2 linked regions of the Homo sapiens genome follow. The protein of the gene in region 1 interacts with the protein of each later gene in a pairwise test. Each region holds a gene or a part of one and is shown on either strand. Other genes may lie near its edges. The genes, in order: RAB28 and ACSF3.

Region 1 (3,919 bases):
TCAGCTAATGATACATTAATCATCCTACATGTGACACTTATAATGAATGTACATTAAAGTATATAAAGGATAATTATAAACCTTGTAATTTATTCACCTCATTTCTTAATATACCTATTAATTATATAAAAACAAAATACATTAAAATATTTTTTCTTATTGAAATTTCTACCATAAGTTTGAGTCTGTTAAGTAGCATAAAACCAACTGCCTTAAAAAAAAAATAGAAGTTTTTTTCTGGAACTTTGCCATCAAAATAAAAACTTAATTAGGAAAATTAAAATATACATTCATTAGTATACATGCCCTAATGTCATTTTTTAACCTAATTACTAAGTCTAAAATATTATACTATAAATCTCGATTTCAAGAATATCAAATATTTTTTACAAAGTAATCAAAATTTTTAAATTGGTAGTGCTGGGCCACAGGTCAGAAATCATCATATCACCTGTATAAAATGTCTGAAAACCAGTCTTTGTTTTTAATATTTGAGTAGGTACTTGTTTATTTAAGCTTTTCAACTAAAAAATGAGAAATAATAAAGTAATGAGACAAGAAGTTGGTGGCTTTTCAAATTAAGCATCAAAACAAAATAGCTAATAATGAAATGCCACATTTGAGATTCTCTGTGTACAACTGGCATCTGTGAAAAAAACTCCTGCAAAAATAAGCTTCCAGCATCTGTATTATGTGATCTGTGTATGTATTCAGCTAGTGACTGCTGTTAAGTATTCTGAATGCAGCATAGATTATCCGTAAGAGTGAGAATAATAAAATTAAAATGACATTTTCAGTTTTGGATACAATAAAAGAAAATACAAATGAAACAAAGTACGCATATGTTTCTCCTTAAACCTCTTGCTGAACAATAACCCAGTAATGGAAAAATTGGAATTCTTTTTTTTCTCATGGGATATCTCCTAATCTATTTTTCACTGGTAGCCAAATACAAACTATCACAAAATATAGCAGAGTATATTACTAAGGAGATAAGAAGAATACCTCCATTACCAAGAGTTTTCATTACCTACTCTAAAACTTTCATGGGGAGTTGTCTGATAGATGGGGTGTCTGAGAGGTTAACATATTTCAATAATAATTGGAATGTATTAAACCCCTTCCCACTGTATCACTCACATTTCAGTACATGAATCTGACATTACACTTGCAACCATTTTCTCCAAATGTGCTTCCTCACAGAGGAGAGAGATGGATGGTTTATAAAGTCAATCAAGATAAACTGCTTTTAATAAAATACTTTAAACATATAATTTAACCATTGAAATTGAAAGGACAGCATTTTAAAGCCCCAATTGTTCAGAAACTAACTTAAAACATAAACCACTCTTTCTTTGTTATTATTTCCCCGTATTTCCCACAAAATGTGCTGCAACTGGCATCTAAATAGTTTCTTTGCATGGTGAAGTGAAACATCTTGAATGCTCAAACTGTATTTTTATGAGTGCCTAGGGACCCTAAATTTTAGTGGTCTATTAAATGCCAGCAATTTCATGCTGCCTTGCATAAAACAGCATTCACATATTAGAGCACAGAAGTTCCATAGCTACATTATACTTCTGTTCCAACTTTAAACAAAAAACTAAAACAGAGGCAAATCAAAATAATATTTTAAAAAATAATCCTTCCCAATCTTTTCACATTTTGTTAATACAATATCTGTTGACAAATGTACAGCACTTAATTTTTTAAAAGCTTTTCACAATTTTATAAGCAACCATTGTTTATCCTCAAAAAATGTATAGTAGCCAAAAACAGGGAAGGAGTGGGAGAGTATATAAACTTTTTCTTATACCCATGGACAATATGCTTTCATGATAGATTGTGATGAAAGTTAACATCCCTAAGATAAATTTACTGTTTATATACATCTTCATGTAGAAGCAGCCCCAAAATTTTACACATTTCTTTCTTATGCCACTTATTGTTAAGATTTTTTTATAATCTTCTACGTTAAGACTTTTTAGTCTCTTACCTGGCAATGTTATCCTTCTCAAAAAGAAATCCAGTCCTATAGTTTGTTTGTACTGTTTCCCAAAAGTTTCTTGAGCAAAACACGTAGTTAAGGAGGTCTAAAAAATTGATGCACAGAATGTCAAAATTAATTCATTAAAGAAATGTAATCATAAGACCACTATAAATCTTAAGCAATCTTAACATGTATATTGCAATTAATCCAACAAGCAAATTTAAGCAGTTCTAATCAGTTACAAGGAGGGGAGAGACTTAACACCACCAGGTAAATTTTACTTGCCAGCAGCTATCGGTAGGGACAACGAACTAATGAGTTAGATCTCTTTAAATCCCCTGCTTGTCAAGATCCTTTTCCTTGCTGAAAATTAGAATTTGAGAGTTATCAACAGAAAAAAAAACTAAAAAATAAATAAATAAAGATCTGAATTATTTTAAAACATAATTAAAGATCTAATCTAACTTAGATCAGCTTCTGAGGTTAAATATTCTGAGGGTAGCTGAGCACTAAGCTAATAATAAGAAGCATTCATTAAGGAGGGAGAAATCTGCTTACAGAATTTTTCTTTTTCCCACAAGAAAAGCACCGTATGTAATTTTTCTTTATTTTTAAAGATGCTAAATGAAAATGACCCTAAAGAAAGACTGTGACAATATGTACCTCTTAAATAAACGTATTTTTAAGATTAATATAAAGCAGACAAAATGAATATTTTCCATCCAAGAACCATAATGCCAAGAAGTCACAAGCTATCATAACCAGAACAGATATACATTTGTTTTTTAATAGAAACTGAAAGTTTTAGTCAAAAACTCTGGAGTTTTCTTTTTAAAGTACCATTTCTTATCAAAGCAAAAGAATAATTATTCTAGTAACAACTGAATAACAATAACTTAACAAATTCTTAAACATTTTAAATGCACTATTTTTATTTATAAACTTCCTCCAAAAAAGAGAAAGGCAACTTCACTAAGCTTTTATGCTCTTCAAGACAGACTCCCTACTTTAAGAGAAAATAGCCGTTTTTTATTTTAAAAGTTAAAATTACATGTCAACTCTTAAAATAATGAAAACTAAGATAAATTTCCAAGATAGCTTATTACAGTTCCTTATGACATAAGCAGTACAATAGTGCAAAAGAAAATTTGGCCAAACTTCAATTCCTTTTAGCAAGATCATCTAAAATTCCTTTTACACAGAACCATATTTTTCACACAAATGGCAATTTGGACACCATAACTCCAAATATTTTTGGGTTTAAATACCCAGCATTTGTAATAAATTTCGAAGATAATTGGCCAAGTATTTGTTGAGCACTACCATATAAAGGGTATTCTGCTAGACATCTAGAAACAAACACATTTGTTATATTTTTGACACATGTAACACTATCAAAACTGAGAGATCAGAATTGAAAAGATAGGTATTTCTTTTTACAGACCATTGTTTCTCATCTACACTATATTATTCTACTGATCTTATCTAACTTAGACCACAAAATCATCTTTGAAGAGGTTCAGAATTCTAGAAAAAAATAACTATCACTACTTATACTATTACAGATATTTCAAAATATTTAATAGACTGATGGTTGAAATACTTAAAGGTCAAAGAGAAACTGAAGGCATGTGTAACATTCACGTAATGTCATTTGAGATAATTTTTCACTTTAAAGAATCTCAGAGTTCAATATTTTCATGTTAAGGAATATTCAGAAAAATTCTAAGAAAGTTTCTTTTCCTGAAAAAGTGACTTCTAGATTTTGAAAGCCCTGCTTTCACACTTTTGAGGCAAACATAAAGCTAGGATTTTCAACTGGAATCGAGTGTAAACTGTCAAAAATACAGGTTACTGGGAACATACAGAGTATTAAAGTAAGTTCTTACTATATCATCTCCCGATGTCTTGAGATAAAAATTGAACAGA
Region 2 (3,919 bases), on another chromosome or scaffold:
CGCCGTGCTCAGCAGGGTGCTCCCCATGGAGCCTCGCAACAAAAATTACTAGATGAGAATGACACTCGCATTCAAATGAAGGGCTGCTTTCAACATGAATAAAACGACACCTGACCTGTTCACCACCACACCTGACACCCCCGCCCCCCCAGACCTTGTGTTTGAAGTGGATGCCGGCACTTCCTCCTGTCGGCTGCCCCGATGAGAGCGTGGGGCAGAGGAGGGCTGTGCTCGGCCTGCGGGGCAGGATGCGTTTCAGCATCACACCTGTGGTTTGGAGGGTTATTTTCAAAATTACATTTTTAAGTAACAGACATTCACATTGCATTCATGAGCAGTACATTCAAATAAAAAAAACCAAAAAGGAAAAATACACTTGAAACCCATATCCATTTTAGGAAGAAAAATACTATTTTAAAAATGCCATCTGGAAAGGTGACACTTACAACTATCCCAAGCCCACAGTTTAATCCGCCATTTCTGTCTGCCTTGAGGAGATGGTTCAGAGCCAAAGGAGCAAGAGCAAGGGAAGCCTCATCTTATGTCCTCCAACACCTGCGGAGAGGACACCAGCCTGAGCCAGGCTTCACGCTACAAAGCTCGCAGGGTCCCCAGGGTCCACCGGTAGTAACACCCGTGCTCCTGGGTCCACCATGTGAACCCCCTCCTCAACAAGGTCTCAGCCTTGGGCCCTAACACGAATGTCTGTCCTCCCAGGATGGGAAAGCAACAACTATGCCCCAGACACAATTCGTGTTCCTATCTCTAAACGTGTTCCCTTTCTAGCAAATTCCTAATCATTCTTCCAAGCCCAGTTCAAATATCACCTCTTCTTTTTCAGTTTTATTATTTATTGAGACAGTGTCTTGCTCTGCCACCTAGGCTGGAGTGCAATGGTGCTGTCATGGCTCACTGCAGCCTCCGATTCCTGGGCTCAAGAAATCCTCGTGCCTCAGCCTAACCAGTAGCTGGAAGTGCAGGTGTACGCCACCACACCCAGCTAATTTTTACATTTTTTTGTAGAGATAGGGGTCTCACCATGTTGCCCAGGCTGGCTTTGAACTCCTGGCCACAAGTGATCCTCCTGCCTCTGCTGCCCAAAGCGCTGGGATTACAGGCATGAGCCACTGCACCTGGCCTGCCTGGTGGAATTTAGACTCAGGACAGCAACATCAACTCCTGACTGCACCGGGCCTCACCCCTTTAAACCTTCCCTCTCTCCAGGGAATGGGCTGCCTGCAGTACCTTCCAAATACTTCACGGCCGGCCGCACGTCTCCATTGCTTGCTCATAGATCTACATGCCCTCAGGGGCTAGGCCGGCTGTGAACCTGTGCCCCACGCGCCCAGCAAGGTGCACGCAGCAAACAACTAAAACGGGGAGTACTTCAAGGGTGACTTCTGAAGCCCAATGAGAAATGGAAGTGAATTTATTCCAAACACAACCAAAGACGATTCGTTCTGAGGATGCCTGAACACGGACCCCGCCGGCTCGACGGTATCACCGGGCCCGGCGTCCGCACAGCTTCTCTCCCCGCACCCCGCGCGGGGGCCCCGCTCCCCACCGGACACGAGAGGCTCGGCGTCCCGGGAAGGCCGACGCCCGGCCCCAGGCGGCTCGCGGGGAAGCGACCGCGCCACGGGCCACGGCTCAAGCCCAGCTGCGACCCAGGGGCGGGCGCCGGAGCCCGCGCCCCCGAGAGCTCTGCGCCCGGCCGACCCCGCCGCGGTCCCGTGGGCCCCGCCGCCCGCACCTACGAGACGGCCGCGGCCACGGGGCAGGATCTGCCTCGCCACAACTCTTCCTCGTCCTCCGCCGCGCGCGCGCCGGGGTCGGGCCGGGTTCCGGCCGGGTCCCGCGGGGTCGTGAGTCGGGCCGGACCAGTTCCGGCGCCCAACAGCTTCCCCGGCGCGGCGCGTCCGTCGCCCAAGCGCGTCCCCCCGGCGCGGCGCCGTGGCGGCGGGTTCCGGGCGCGCGTGTTCCCCTGTCCCGCCCGTCCCGTCGTGGCGGGGTCGGGGCCGCGGGCGTCTCGTGAGCCGTGGCCGAGGCAAGGCGCCGTGGTCTCCGCTAGCCCAGGGCTGCCCAGATCAGAACGGCGCGCGGGACCACTCCCAACGCGGATTGCTGGGCCTCGCCCCGTCCTCCCAAAAGGGGCTCTCTGGGCTTTGCGGCTGGGGGTCTGCACGCTGAGCTCCTGGGTGATTTTATTATTATTATTATTGTTGTTACTTTTTCTTATTATTATTATTATTTTGAGATGGAGTCTCGCTCTGTCGCCCAGACTAGAGTGCAGTGGTGTGATCTCGGCTCACCGCAACCTCCGCCTCCCGGGTTCAAGTGATTCTCCTGCCTCAACCTCCCAATTAGCTGGGACTACAGGCGCCCGCCATCATGCCTGTCTAATTTTTGTATTTCTTGGGTGATTTTAAACGGACCGCATTTGAGAATCTCTCCTCGAAGGGACTTGGGAACCAGGATACGAATATGAAGCGAGACTGTTGGATGGACAGTGGCGGAAAACATTTAAAGCCAAACACAAAGTCCAGTTGGCTGAAATTTGAGGGTTTTTCCCCTAAAATGAATACTAATAACACAAAGACATGTACTGGCAAACAGTAGTACAAATTATCTGCAGAACCGTCCTGGTGTGATGGCTCACGCCTGTAATCCCAGCACTTTGGGAGGCCGAGGTAGGCAGATCACGAGGTCAGGAGTTCAAGACCAGCCTGACCAACATGGTGAAACCCTGTCTCTCCTAAAAATACAAAAATTAGCCGGGAGTGGTGGCAGGTGCCTGTAATCCCAGTTACTCGGGAGGCTGAGGCAGGAGAATCTCTTGAGCCTGGGAGGTGGCGACTGCAGTGAGCTGAGATTGCGCCACTGCACTCCAGCCTGGGCAGCAGAGTGAGACTGTCTCAAAAAAAAAAAAAAATTATCTGCAGAACCTTGCACAGTTTTTTTGTAAGTGTATTATTTTCCATGCCCATCTTCCTCTCTTGTGATGATTGCTGGGGCAGCAGTTGTGTCCTTGGAAAGCTCAGGAAAGGGCACTTCAGGAGCCCGAGGATGGTTTTCCTGGGAGGAAGGAGCTGGATCTGGGGGAAGTTTGTAACACAGAGCGTGGGAGAACAAACCCAAACTTCTAGTGCCTCTGGTTGCCACCCTGCTAGGTATCATGCAGAAAAAGCAAGTCCAACCCTCTGCCACTGGGACAGGCTTGATCTGGTGTCAGAATTCTGTCTGCTTCCAGGACTCAGCAGGCTGAATGGTGTTTCCGACGAGGGCAGTAGGAAGAGTAAGGAGGGCGTCTAACATCAGGATTCAGCCCCAGGACGTGTGTGCGCAAATTTCTATCCCTGGGAAGTTGAAGAGCTCAGGCTGCGTCACCCACCTAGAGACAGGACTTGGGACAGGGTGACAGCTCCCGTGGTCCTTGGCCATGGCTCTGTGAGGGTGGCAGTGGGGGGAGGGTGCAGTCTCCGAGAAATGGCCCAGTCATCCTATGAGCAGGGGTCCCATCTGTGCCTCGGCTCTGGTCAGCATCATAGTGGCAGGTGGGAAGCAGGAGCAGTCAGGGATTAGCAGACATTGGAGGACAGCCTCTAGCCAGAGAGACGTGGGCTGAAACAACCAGCAGAACAACTGCAGGCAGCCAGGCTGTGCAGAGTGAAGAGACCCCCAAAACCACCCCCTGTTAATACCCTCAGGGAGACAAGGGAAGCGACAGCCCCCATGAGTCCAGAGCGAGATGCCCCGAGAAAGAGCGTTCCAGTAACATAAAGGGGGGCTGGAGGGGTCAGAATACAACAGCCTGAGTAAAAACCCTAAGGGAAGGGCTAAAGGACGTCTCCTAGAAATAGAACAGAAAGACCGAGAGATGAAAAACAGGAGAGGAAAGATAAAAAAATCAGTGGGCTCA

Evidence for each region.
Region 2: the proteins of RAB28 (region 1) and ACSF3 interact in binary tests that used the Homo sapiens proteins (3 or more experiments, as listed by UniProt).

The regions. Positions count from the first base shown.
Region 1 is NC_000004.12:13,477,434-13,481,352, forward strand, and holds part of RAB28 (ras-related protein Rab-28), read right to left. Parts: intron 2,094-3,919; coding exon 1,997-2,093; intron 1-1,996.
Region 2 is NC_000016.10:89,091,831-89,095,749, reverse strand, and holds the start of ACSF3 (malonate--CoA ligase ACSF3, mitochondrial isoform 1 precursor), read right to left. Parts: upstream 1,899-3,919; 5' UTR 1,754-1,898; intron 1-1,753. UniProt on the Homo sapiens protein: Catalyzes the initial reaction in intramitochondrial fatty acid synthesis, by activating malonate and methylmalonate, but not acetate, into their respective CoA thioester. May have some preference toward very-long-chain substrates.